4 linked regions of the Homo sapiens genome follow. The protein of the gene in region 1 purifies or fractionates together with the protein of each later gene. This does not show direct contact. Each region holds a gene or a part of one and is shown on either strand. Other genes may lie near its edges.

Region 1 (3,500 bases):
GTTCCTGTCACACAAGGCCAGGGTTCTCTGGAGTCAAGTGAACAGATGAGTGAAAAACAGTCTGGCCAAACAGATATGCTTTTATCTATTATGTTGATATCTCCAGGGTAGCAGAGTTTGTGCATTTGCATCATCTTACAAAAGGAAAGCAACATCCAAAATTCAGACATCTAAGAACACCTTAAAATAAAGGTTTTAGTTCTTGTAAAGCAGTATGTTGGTGGTTACCTGATCTCCTTCCAGCACCTTAAGAAGGTACTGAGTATGAAGCTACATCAGGCTTTTGTTTAGGCACTAATGTTTTATTTATTTTTCATATTTATTTAATTTTAGAGACAGAGTCTCGCTCTTTTGCCCAGGCTGGAGTGCACTGGTGCAATTATAGCTCACTGCAGCCTCCTGGGCTCAAGCCATCTTCCCACCTAAGCCTCCCGAGTAGCTGGGACTATAGGCACATGCCACCACCCTGGCTAAAAATGTTTTGAAATCCCTCATTCTGTAGCTATCGATCTATCCCTTCTCGCATCCTTCCTTCCTCTTCCCTCTTCCTTTCCTTCCTCCCTAGCATATGTCCACTCCTGCTGATGACTTACCATTGCATCACAAATCAGGTTGCCCATGTTGCATTCTCTAAAGCGGCATGATTGAGAGGAGCCATCCAGATAGACAATTGTTTTCCCTAATTCCTGGGTAGAATAATTATCCAATTTTATCCTCCATTTGTTAATGTCTGCTTTTATGCTTGGATCTAGAAGAAAGAAAAGAAGGTACCCTACAATTAAATCTCACACTGGGCTAAATTCTGGAAAAGGAATGAAACATCATCTATCTTACTTGCTGTGAGAACATATTTGTTTACCATATTTGTGTGCATTTTGGTTTTGACCATGAAATTTCCTTAGGAACTTCTATTTTGTTTCCTGGTAATAAGACCTGGAATGCATCTTAATTTAAGAATATTCTGAACATCTACCAGCTCATCACATCTGTATGAGCTACCCATTGGCCCACCTGGGACAGCATTAGTGGTGGCGGTAGGAGCTCTGAAAGGCCCAGGGGCAGTTATAAAAGGCCTGCTGAGGTACAGCTGGGCTATCGCTGTCAGTGTGGTCCTGGGCCCCTTTCCCATCTGGCTACTGAGAGGGCTGTGTTGTGACTACAGGCTCACCTGGGTGCTGTGCACCTCATCTTCCTGACATGATCATAGTCAACAGAAAAGGGAAAGTGAGAGACAAGCACAGGAGTGTGTTCTGTACACATATGAAAATCAATGATATAAAAATGTATTTTTACTCTGAGACTCATGTAGGGAGACGCCCTGAAACTATTGCTACGGAATAAAAGATGAAATGCTCCTGATTATTGTAAATACAAAATTGCATGCAGGATTGTGTAAAGACAATGCCAGGTTGGACTGCCACAATGAGCCAACAGCACGTGATGTGCTTCCCCCTGCAGAGAGCCTACAAATGGACGTGCAGTCAGGGAGGTTTCCCATCACCAAGATTCCTATCCCAGAAAAGCAGATGTTCATAGCTCTGGGAATGGAATGTGACCCTTGTGGGGAGCCTATAAACGGACGCATGGGGGGGGCCTGTCCATATGGATAAGATAGGGCTATAAACACGCTCATCTTGCCGCCGCTCTTCTAGGCCTCTTTAGGGTTAAGGCGTACTCCCCTCTGAGAATTTCTGGTCTAACTGGTTATCTAGCTTCATGTCCTGTTTCCATGGATTATTTGTAACCAGTTTTTGTTGCAATTGTTACTGCTGATTAATATCTTGCTAATCATAGGTTATGGAAAGACTGTGTTTCTGTTCTAAGGCTCTGTTAGAAATTACTGACGCACACACTATATTGTAAATTCTTATCTCATACTGTACTTCTACATACAAATGTACTGTACTTCTACATACAAATGTTATGTTAAAGAATTACTTCATCCCCATGTGACCATCTCACCTCATAATCAAATGACCCTAAATCCCTCACTAACGTACCCCTGCCCTCACTAAACTTAATAATAAATGCTGGTATATCCAGTGCATTGTTGGCACCGCAGGACCAGAAGGCAGTGACCCCCCTGGACCCAGCTTTCACTATCTTGTGTGTGTCTATTATTTCTCAACCTGCCAATCTGCCTAGGAACAAAGAGAGAGCCCCATTGCATTGCGGGCTGCTGGCCAGATCCCGCAATAGACTCAGACATATAAATAAGGTACTCCCTCATTTGATAAAGAAACTGAGGCCCATGAGATTGGGCAACTTGCCTAAGGCACACTGCCTCTAGTTGGGGGGCCAGGACTTGAGCCCCGCTCTGCCCAATTAGAACCCCTTTAGTTCAGTTATCTCTCCTGTAAACACAAGCTGAGAGTGGCTTTGGCATGTCAGGATCAAGATTTTAAAAGGCAGAGGAAGCAGTGATGTATGGAATCTGATGCTGAGAAGACTTGAAGAAGCAAGTGGGGCTTTTGGCATTTGGGTGTGTTTTAAATCTATCCATGAAGAGGGCAAACTCAAGGAAGAAACTAAATTCTTCAACAGTATTATAGTCTTTTCCTGAAACATTAAAGGAAAAAAATGGGAAGGAGCAAAATATCCAGCCATCTAAATTTTAGATTGGTGGAACATTCCCCTGAACTTCACTTACCTTCAGGAATGCTGCTGTTTAGAAGAATGGGATTTCCATGGGAAGAGATGACGTTTCCTCTTTCATCAAACTCGATCTTCAGATAGCCTAGGTATTTGCCAAAAGCATAGGCCTGGACTACAGGAACCTTCCGCCCATCATCAGAAGTGACTATGAATGGGTACTTCCCAGCAGGCACCTCTTTGGAAGGTGGATTGCCTGAAATAAAAGAGCCACAGCTGATCAAGTCAGCCCTTGTACATACATGGCTGGCTGTAGGCCAGCGGGCTACTGGCTGGATGACAGAGTTTTAAATTGATGATTTGCCATCTGTTGCTCTACATAGCTAGTCTTTCAGAGCCCTATCTGGGCATTTGCCCATTTCCAAATGCCCTTTTGGTACATGAATCCTACCATTCTCAACTCAGCAGTCATTTACCAAGCTCTTCCTAAGACCCGGGCATTGTGCTTGTGCTGTGGGGCACACAAAGATGGAACGCCGTGAAGAGTATCCTCCAGGTTCACTGTGGCTCCATTCTCACTAGCCAGGTGGATTAGCCAAGCCACTTTACCATACTGTAGTTCAGTTTCCTTGCCTATAAGGTGGGCGAAATCCATTTTAAACAATCCCTATTTTACAGGGCAGCTGAGAGGATTAAATATCTAAACTCCCTAGCTGGGGTGCCTGGCACATTGTAGGTGCTCAATAAATATACAATAAGGGTGTATTTTTTCCCTTATAAGGGAATAGCAATCTCTAGAAACCCCAGACATATACTTCGGAGCTTAAAATCTTTAGTAGAAGATGCAGAGATGACAAAGAGCTGTTCTTGGCGTTTGCTGCTAAATTCTGCATCCCTTCAGGTGTCTT
Region 2 (3,500 bases), on another chromosome or scaffold:
TTCTCCCATCTCCTGTTCTCTTCTGTTTTTCCCTCATCTGTTTACAGATCTGGGTTTCTAACTCTGTGTGTGTGTGTGTGTGTGTGTGTGTGTGTGTGTGCGCGCGCGCGTGTGTTACACATTCTGGTTAACTAAAGAGATTTTAGGTTGCAATGGCAAAACATACTGAACACTTAAATGTGGGCCTCTAATTTCCCTAATATATCCTTTAAACAACACACGCATATATCCTAGTAATGTTACCCCTTATTCACGAGAGTTGAAATGGTTATTCACAAGAATTTACTCAAATAAAAATGAGTTTAAAAAAACTATTAAATATATGAACCCATATAGGACTATCATTTCAATCAGTATTTCCCAATACTTCTTAAAGCAATAGTCCAACAAAGTACTCCACAGAAAAATAATGGTTGCATGGTCAAGTCATAAGGCACAAATCATACTAGGTACTTAAAGAGTGTAAGAAATCCTGAAATGAAGAAACTTGCTTAACCTTATTATCCAGCTGTTCCCAAATTTACTAAGCTTATGAGCTCTTTTTTTCTCCCCCAGCACCTATTAATATCCCACAGAACATGCGCTAAGGAAATGTTAACCCTAACCACTGATTAAAATATACTATGTAAAGCATTATACTTAACCTAGTAGCATAAATCGTTTTTAAAATGGTGCTGCCTTTGAAAAAACCTAAAATGGATTTATAAAGAAAATAATCCAAGTTGCTAGGTGCAAATGGCTCATTTTAAATATTGCATGTATATTTACCTTACTTAGGTTAATTTAAAAAAAAAAAAACCATAAGCACCAATTGGGATTTTGATTTGGGAGGTGGGGTGGGCAAACAGCAAAATTTTCCTTGAAGTATAACATATGGAAGAGAATATTTTATAAATATTAACTTCTAAGACTGTTCTTATTTTTCCATCAATTTTCATGTTTGGTCTTTTATCAAATGGGAGAAAAAAATGGAATTTTATGACTTACAAAATCCAATGAATACACAGGCATGCTATATTGAACTTTCCTGAAGGTATGTTACACAACAATACAAGAATTTTTTAATGAAAATGCATCAATTTTCCCTTTAATGTATACTACGAATTATTTACTTCACAGGTTTTAAAGAGTGTATTTTAAAGTACACACATTTTACCTGAAAGCTCCATAAAGTGGTCTGTACCAACAGACAAATGAACAAGGAGTAAAAAGCAAGAACCACAGGATACTCAATCCAAAATCAACCGCTCTTGCAGAATCAACACAAAACCAAGCCAAGCATCCGAAGATATTTAGAAACAGTGTTACTGCATGGACTGTGGAATCAGAAAACAAAATAGAAAAAGAAAGATTTACATTCAATTTATGAATTCATCCAACAAAAAATTGTAAATAAAAAAATACTTCCTAAGAGCAAATGTATTCTACTCCATGTTTCCATTTATATTTTTCAAAACACTGTTGTATCTTACATATTTGATTTGAAAACAGAGTATACACAGGAAAGCGAGTCTTAATACATGTACTGTTTGGCAAAAATTCTGTTGGCCCTCTCCTCCTCACAGGCAATGATGTAGCTAAACCAGAGGCGCACTACCTTAAGGGCTTCTTCCCGAAAAGGAAACGTGATGTCTCTTGATCTGAAGCCCAAGAAGAAAAGCAGTGTCTGCCAGGAAAAGACCCAGGACTTAGGAGGAAAAACCATATCTTTACAGAATGGGGCTGCAGACTAAACACTGGACTAAAAATACTAATACAGTAGCAATTTCTAGTGACTATATAGTCAATGTATAAGGATTGTTCATTCAACTTCATAGAGCTGTCCATTTGTAAAATCCTGAAAAAAACTTGCGTTTTGGTAGAGGATTAAATTTATTAAGTCCCCTCCTCACTCCCCCACACAACATGATACATTTTAGCTACTGTGGCAGGCTTTTCTTTTGGTTAACACAAATAGATGTTGACAAATTCATCATATGCTGTTAATAATTGCTTTCCCTGACAGACCAAAAACAAAAAATCTGAGTAACATCTAACTATACCATGATCCTAAAGAACTACTTTGACCCATTGTAATTAATAACTGTTTCAAAGGATTTTTTAAAAATTTATTCACAGGCTGAATTTATTATAGTAAGTACATTCTTATATAAGCTAAAATGATGTTTAATGTAAATTATCAAATCAATAAAAATATGCCAACAAATTACTTGAATTAAAATTAACAACTGGGAAAACCTATTGGATCTAGTTTTTTAAATCTCAAACTTTAAGATTTCTTTACAAATCAAATAAGTTAATAATTAATGAAACAGGATACACACACACATTCTGGGATGCCTAAATTTGCTCTTACCTAACCCACCAGATAAGTAAACAAGCTCTAGAGTTTTGTTTTTTGTTTTTTTTTAAAAAGAGCTCCAGATGAAGTCACTTAGGTTGTAGTCATCTAATATTAAGCCAATCACTCAACCTCTGTAAGCTTCAATTTTTCAGCCATAGAAATGCAGGAGCTTTTCCCACTTTAAAATCCCATTCAATTCTATCACAAAAGAGACACTCTCACTCATTACTCTAGTCCCATTAGGATTTTTAACTCTCAGGAATGCTTGCTCATAATAAATTTACTCAAAACCCTTGGCCTCAAAATAAGGGTGGTTGTGTTAAGATCTTAAAAACAGAATTGAAGATTGTGAAATAGAAAATTATTACTCTGCAGCATTAAATAGCATCCAGCTGCCTTAAAAAGTTTTAGACCTTAAGAACATTCTAACTTAAATTTCAATTTTCAAATTAGGTTATTTCCTAATCCACTGAAAGAAAGATAAAATATATGTATAATTACACTTTAAAGTTCATGAAAATTATTCCAAGTATAGATGAAAATACAAAAATTAGCCAGGCGTGATGGCATGTGCCTGTAGTCCCAGCTACTCAGGAGGCTGAGGCACGAGAATCACTTGAACCCGGGAAGCGGAGGTTGCAGTGAACCAAGATCGTGCCATTGCACTCCAGCCTAGGCAACAAAGCAAGACTCTGTCTCAAAATAAAATAAAATGCTAGGACAATTTCTGCCCATTTAAAAAAATAAACATATATAAAATATAAATGCATATATTATATTGATTAAATAAGAGTTGGTTAGCATGTACATATATGGAATCAGACATTTAATATTAAAAATATATACTACTGACACTGAGGATTCAGCAAAAGATATTAGATCAAGAATATCTCGAAAAATACTAATGAAGAGTTAAAAATAGACTATCCATTAGGAAACACTTCTCACATTCCAAAACAACTTGACATACATGAAGAATGCTCCTAAAAGATTTTAAGGAAAATTATCTCATCCATTAAGGGAAGGGTGGTAGTCTCATTAATCATAAAGTAAAAACAAGTAAATTTCCTCCATCAAGAATGTACCCTACAAATTATCCATTAACCCAGATGTTGTGCATGTGAGAACCCTCAATAGCTACCTCCCCTTCTGACAG
Region 3 (3,500 bases), on another chromosome or scaffold:
AATGTTGGTGGTCAAATCAACAGGACCTAATGAGCGGGAAGGGAGAGTTAAGAATCCCCGGCCTGAGCAAGGGAGCAGATGGTAGCACCATCAGTAGGGTAGGGAAGACTGGGGAGGAAGCAGCCTTGTGAGGGAAGATAATTAGTTCAGCTTCTAGCCTGCTAAGTTAGTGGCCATGAGACAGTAGGCAGCCAGGTGTCAGACGAGCCAGACTTGGAGGACAGTCTGAGCTGGAGGTACTGAGTGTGTGAAAAGCTATGGGGATAGATAGAACTCAGATCCAGCTGAGTTCAAAACCTAACTCTTCCATGGACATAAAGGACCCCAATAGGTAGACATGTCCAGAGGAAAAGGAGCAGGCAAAGGGGATGAGAAGGCCAGAGGAGGAGGGGAGCCAGAAGAGTGGGGTCTCAAGGCAGCCAGAAATTTAACAGTGTTTTGAGGTGGGAATTAAGTCAACCAGGTCAAATGCTGCTGAGAGGCTGATTATGTTAAAAACTAAAATGGGGCCGGGTAATCCCAGCCTGTAATCCCAGCACTTTAGGAGGCCAAGGCGGGTGGATCACGAGGTCAGGAGTTCAAGACCAGCCTGGCCAAGATGATGAAACCCCGTCTCTACTAAAAAGCATGGTGGCAGGTGCCTGTAATCCCAGCTACTTAGGAGGCTGAGGCAGAGAACTGCTTGAACCTGGGAGGTGGAGGTTGCAGTGAGCCGAGATCATGCCACTACACTCCAGCCTGGGCGACAGAACGAGACTCCGTCTCAAAAAAAAAAAAAACCTAAAATGGATTTGCTTTGTATCATTACCTTTACTCCAACTACTCTAAACCATCAGTAATTTGAGAATAAGCAATATGATTGATACATATTTATATCCATCTCGCCTCCCATGGGCACAGAGCAAGGAACTGATACCAACCTAGTAAATGAACATAGTCATGCCTCGCTTAACCACAGGGATACTTTCTGAGAAATGTGTCATTAGGCAGCTGCATCCTGGGAACATCATAGAATGTACCTACACAAACCTTGACGGTATAGCCTACTACACACATAGGCCTTATGGTATAGCCTATTGCTCCCAGGCTACAAACCTGTACAGCATGTTACTGTACTGAACACTGTAGCCAACTGTAACACAATGGTAAGTACTTGTGTACCTAAACATAGAAAAAGTACAGTAAAAATACAATAGTATAATTTTATGGGACCACCATCATATATGTGGTCCATCGTTGACCAAAACATCCATGACTGTATGCCTCTCTGGCTCTCAGGGAAACTATAATGACTGTAGGGAGATGAAAGCATGTGAAATCTATTCATTCATCTTCTTAACAGAGTTCAATGGAGGCAATCCTCCATAGGATTAGTTATATTTGTCAGTATCCCCATGTCAAAGCACGTGCGTGATAAGGACACACTTAGAGGACAGGGACATAATACCTTAACCCAACCATAAGCCTTTCCAAAAAACTTTGCAGCAAAAATGACCCTTATTTATCCCCCTACCTGAAAAATATATGTTGGGCTCATCTACCCACTCTCCTGAGGACCCATTCTACTGGCCTACTCCTCCTTATAGTTTAGACATCTGACCTGCATTTCTCTTGTGGTTCCAGCCTATTCTTTCTAGTCTTCTTCATAAAAACTGAATTTTGCTAGGAGGCTCAAAGGCAACGAGTGGGTCACAGAGTGACATGGGGGTAGAGAAGGGGGTGGAGAAGTAAACAACTGCCACGGACTAGAGTCTAGACACACACACTAGATCCCAGGCTGTCCATCTCCTCATCCTCCTGTATACCCATCATCTGCCAAAGCCAACAGCCAGAAGAGCCAGAGATGTGCACTCAAAGATCTGAGTTCAAAACCTAACTCTTCCACTGACTAGCTGTGTGACTATGTGCAAGTTACTTAACACCTCTGTGCTTGTAGCCTGGTAAGCTCATTAGTAAAATAGTGAAGACAATGATGCCTTTTCATGGGGTAGCCGTAAGGATCACGAGGGTGAAAGAAGTGCTTTTATAAATGGTTCAGCTAGTAATTAGTTAAGCAATTAACAAGTTTTAGCTCCAGGATCACTCATACTCCAATCCTCAGACACTTCCTCTGAGACTAGGGAAAGAGGTGGTATAAATAAACCCTGCTGTTAGTACAACTAAATAAAGAAGTCTCACACATACACACACACACACACACCAACCAGAACCACCACTTCAAACACACCCAGAAGGTAAACTGATGCCATTTCATTTCCCCTACAGATAAATTTCAAACCAGACAAGGGTACCAGTCCCCTTTTGTTCTGAGCTGCCCAGCCTAGTGCCCCCTATCTTCCTCCCCTGCTACTTACTAAAGACTCAACATGAATCCTGCTCCCCTGGCCTGCCAACCCAAGTCAGAGTGCCCAAAAAGCACCAAAACACGCTTGTCTCCTCCCTACCAAACACAGGTGCCAAAAATGAACCCGACTTCTGAGACCCTTGCCTGCTGTGTCTTCAAGTACACCAGGGAACTAATCCAAGCACTGCTGCTGGGGGGCCTGGGAGGAGGGAGGAGAGGGGAGTAAAGAGAAGGGCAGAAGTTCCCCTTATTTAATCAGTCTCAGGGATCAGGGGTTTGGAGGGTCCCCTGGGTGGGCAGCGTTCCCAGGGAAGAGATGGGGGGAGGGGATGGCTGGATGAGATCAACAAGTGGAAACGTCAAGAGGGATGACGAGACAGGGAGGGAAGTCCGGACTTGGTGCAGGACAGGGAGCTGCCCTAGTCTGGGGAAGGGGGAGGCTATAGAAAAGGAATGTGCCCCACTGCCTTTCACCTTGCCCCCCACTTCCCAAGACACAAACACACACACTCAGTCCCCTGCTCAAACCAACCATGGATTATCTGGGGTTAAAATGAGGCCAGGGAGGAGAGAGGGAGAGAAGAGAGAGCCTGTTACAAAAAGGAGACCCTTCTCCCCTCCAAAGGCCTTTCAGAAATAAAATTAATGGAATGTGTCTCAGTATCATCCCAAGGGGATTGGGGGGGAGCTTGGCAGGGGGGAATGTGGGGGCTTTTGTCCCTGCTGCCCAGCTTCTCCCACATTGATCACCATGGCAACAAAAGCCCCCTGTTGCCTAGGTGATGGCAGCCGGGTCCTGGAACCCATACCCAGCATCCAAAGGGAGGGAGGTTATGGAGGTGGGGGCAATAGGGACAGAGGAGGAGAGAATGGGGTTTCTCCTCTGGCGGCCCCAGCTTTTGTCTGAGCTCTGGGATCAGGTTTCTTCAGGAAACAATTGGAGGCCTCTGGAAAAAATACACTCAGAACCTGGCAACAGGCAGAGGGAGCAGGGCCCTAGAGTAGTGCGTGCGTGCGTGCGTGTGTGTGTGTGTGTGTGTGTGTATAAGGGGGGTGGGTGTTGGCCAAAACACAGACCAGGGCGGACCAACCCTTTCCCATTTCCCACTCAAAGGAGGCGGCTCAAGTGGGCAAGGCGTTGAACACAAACGCCAGC
Region 4 (3,500 bases), on another chromosome or scaffold:
AATATGGATGCCCTGTACAAATACTAGATATGCCAGAGAAGCCATTGAGTCTGCTAACTGTTTATTTTCTTCTTCTTCAAATTCAAGGTAATTCCAAGTTCTCTTTTTCCTTCCATGATTAAAAATCATTTTGGGGAAAGGGTGTCCAATTGCTGATAAAAAACCCTATGAAATGGATAAAAAAGGAAACCATAGCACACAGACTCTAAAATGCCCCCCACCCCGTGTATTCAAACTCCACATTCTCACCAAGGGGAGGTGTAATCACTCCCTTTGAGCGTGAGTGGGACCTATGAGACTTGCTTTCAACCAACAGAATGCGCCAAGATGTCACTCCCATGATTAGATTATATGACAAAAGTGAAGGGGTTTTTGCAGATGTAATTAAGGTCCCAAATCAGTAGATTTTGAGTTGGGTGGCCCTAACTTAATCAGGTATATTTTTAAAGGGGGTCCAGGCCTTCCCTGAGAGTCAGAAACTTTGCTCTCTGACTCTCTCCCTTGCTGGCTTTAAAGAACTAAGCTGCCATGTTATGAGAAGGCTCATGGACAGAACTACATGGCAAGGGACCAACTACAGGCAGCTCCTAGAAGCTAAATGTGGTCCCTGGCTGACAGCCAGCAAGAAAATGGGGACCTCAGTCCTACAGCTTAGAGGAAATGAATTCTGCCAGCGGAGGAAACCTGAAAGTGGATCTTTCCCCAGTTAAGCTTCTGATAAGACTACAGACCCAGTCAACAACTGGCCTGTAGCCCAATGAGACCCTGAGCAGAGGACCCAATTAAGCTGTGGCTGGACTCCTGATCCATAGAAACTGTGAGATAACAAAGGTATGCTGTTTTAAACTGCTAAGTTTGCAGGAATTTGTTATACAGCAATGAAAAACTAATACAGAAGCCAACAGCAAAATCGTATTTTACATAGCATTTTATACATCAGAAGTATTCTAAATTAATTCAGAATCATAGTTTAAAAAGTTTAAAATGATGAATTTTATGTATATTTCACCACAATTTTTTTTAAAAAAGTGCTTCAGGGATATTTGAGAGCAATCTGAAACGTGAGACATACAAATATATGAAGCAAGGGTAAAGCAACTAAGATGAAGAATACTCTAGGAACAATGCTCCACTAACATTGTGCCTGTAGAGAGTGGGATGCAGGAACGCTGGGCAGGGCAGCTGGGCCTGAGGAAACACTGTTGATCTCTCAGTCATCAGGGTTCTCATGTGAGACGAGAAAGAGAAGCATCCTTGCATGAGTGGGTAGGACCACAGGGCTAAATAAAGCTTTCCGCTCAGGAAACAAGATCACTCCTATGCCTCTTATACTGGTACTAATTCTAGCGTACCAGAAAGCACCTACCTTCAGAATCCACTGACATTGATTTTGAGTTTTGGCTCTACCATTTACTACTTGTGTGACACTGGATGAGCCATAAAATGACATAATACCTATGTCAAATATTTATCGAGCAGCTCCACAAAAAAAGCGTAAGAAAGTTAAAGTCACAACAAACTACAAGAGTTAAAAGGGAATGAATGACAAAAACAGCTAAAGCAGAATGAATAACTTCCACACAAGTCACTCTTTTATTCAATAAACACTTAAGTGCAAGGTGCTGGGCCTGACTTTGTGGGGAATTATAAAGCCAAGTATAAGTCTTTTCCAGCCTTCAGGGACTTAAAATCTGCTGATCCCAGATGGTTCCATTAGTCATTTCAGAATACAAAAAGGAACCATGGAAAATCATCCTCAGTCACAAGAGACTGCTATTCAGCGACCAGATGCTAAATATATACTGCTGCAGTGATTTTCAAAGCCATGCATTCTGGTTATAGCTACAAGACAAAAAGTTTATTGCACTCTGATTCCAAATGTCCTTAATCATGAAGCTCCATTTCTTTATTCAGCCAATGCTACATGTGTTTTTTCCAGAGTAAGGTAGCCCTGTTTTTTTTTTTTTTTTTTTTGGCGACAAGGTCTCACTCTGTCACTCAGGCTGGAGTGTAGTGGCATGATCATGGCTTACTGCAGCCTTGACTTCCCCAGGCTCAAGCAATCCACCCTCCTCAGTCTCCTGAGTAGCTAGGACTACTGGTACATGCCACCATGCCCGCTATTTTTTTTTTATTTTTTTTATTTTTTATAGAGATGGGGTTTCGCCATGCAGCCCAGGCTGGTCTTGAACTCCTGGGCTTAAGTGATCTGCCCACCTTGGCCTCCCAAAGGCCTGGGCCTACAAGCGGGAGCTACCGTGCCCAGCCTAAGATACCCTTTTTAAAACATTATTATATGCAACTAGATTCTACAGTGCTGCTCTGGATATCTGAGATCCAATCTGTTCCCAAATCTGGGCCTTCACTATCTATCCACACACCATCCAGCAGTCTTGCTCAGATCCAGGCTGTACCTGGCACCATACAATTTCTCAATATTCATGGCAGCTTTTGTCCTTTCAGAAATGTTCCTGTACTACAGCCTTTGGGACATTCTAGTAGTTCTGTACCAAAATAACTTGTACCAAAGTGAGGATGGCTGAGGCCTGTGAATCCCAACCACACCACACTTACCAGTACTTCTCCAGCACAGAACAGAAGACATCTCCTCATTTCATCTCCAAGCTGGTCTCACCTCTACTTCTAGACTGCTACGTGCATCCTTACTGCTGGCTCTTTCTACTTGCAATGTTCCTTCTACTGAGATTTTAGAACCACTCACCTACATCCTCAGTCTCTTCATAGGATGCTTGTTCTGCCTCACTGCTTTAACTAAACCTGTCTGATTTCTGGTGGGAGATGCTCATTCTCACACCTTTTATACCACAGGGCCTGGAATGCAGCTGTTGGGTAGAGGAGTACAGGTAGGGGCTTAGCACAGTATTGTAGTATTGGCTTTTTCTGTACTTTTCAACAAAAGCACATTTTCCTTTGATGCAGATAACATACTGTCCTTTTCTCTGTCATATGCTGACTTCCTGGTAATTTCCTGACATTCACTGAAGACTCTGGCACCTTCTCATAATCTTTTTCTCTACCCAATTCCTGCTATGATCCTGGGAAAATTCAATGTTCATGGAGATAACCCCTATAACAGGCTAGTCTCATGGTCCTTTATTATTATTAATTTATTTTTCAATCAAGCAACAAGTCATTGCATCCACTCTCATGGTTCTCAATTTCTAAATTCTAGTGACTTTTAGTTCTAATCCATTTCAGTACCTAATCCCATGCTGGATCTCTGAACATCTGGAACTATTCTGTATTTGATACTTTAAACTCCAATATCCCATTTTCTGACCAAAATCTGTCATCCTGTCTCTCCTAGCAATCTGCTTTTCTACTTCTGACTTCTCCAGTCCTGTGATTCCTACATTTTGACCTACCTAGGCATTCCCTCCTAACCCCCCTTCTTTCCCTATCCAACCTGAATCATGGATTATTGACCAGCTGAACTATCTGCACCCTGTATTTCCTTCAGCAGTATCTACCCAGTAAAA

The links. The genes of interacting proteins can lie anywhere in the genome.
Region 2: the proteins of NT5E (region 1) and SCAMP1 purify together in Homo sapiens (affinity purification with mass spectrometry; 3 studies listed by BioGRID and IntAct, with this or other methods). This does not show direct contact.
Region 3: the proteins of NT5E (region 1) and VANGL2 purify together in Homo sapiens (affinity purification with mass spectrometry; 3 studies listed by BioGRID and IntAct, with this or other methods). This does not show direct contact.
Region 4: the proteins of NT5E (region 1) and GLMN purify together in Homo sapiens (affinity purification with mass spectrometry; 3 studies listed by BioGRID and IntAct, with this or other methods). This does not show direct contact.

What each region holds. Positions count from the first base shown.
Region 1 is NC_000006.12:85,484,583-85,488,082, reverse strand, and holds part of NT5E (5'-nucleotidase isoform 1 preproprotein), read right to left. Parts: intron 2,849-3,500; coding exon 2,651-2,848; intron 749-2,650; coding exon 594-748; intron 1-593. UniProt on the Homo sapiens protein: Catalyzes the hydrolysis of nucleotide monophosphates, releasing inorganic phosphate and the corresponding nucleoside, with AMP being the preferred substrate. Shows a preference for ribonucleotide monophosphates over their equivalent deoxyribose forms.
Region 2 is NC_000005.10:78,419,617-78,423,116, reverse strand, and holds part of SCAMP1 (secretory carrier-associated membrane protein 1), read right to left. Parts: intron 1,317-3,500; coding exon 1,157-1,316; intron 1-1,156. UniProt on the Homo sapiens protein: Functions in post-Golgi recycling pathways. Acts as a recycling carrier to the cell surface.
Region 3 is NC_000001.11:160,410,564-160,414,063, reverse strand, and holds part of VANGL2 (vang-like protein 2), read right to left. Parts: intron 1-3,500. UniProt on the Homo sapiens protein: Involved in the control of early morphogenesis and patterning of both axial midline structures and the development of neural plate. Plays a role in the regulation of planar cell polarity, particularly in the orientation of stereociliary bundles in the cochlea.
Region 4 is NC_000001.11:92,271,488-92,274,987, forward strand, and holds part of GLMN (glomulin), read right to left. Parts: intron 166-3,500; coding exon 1-165.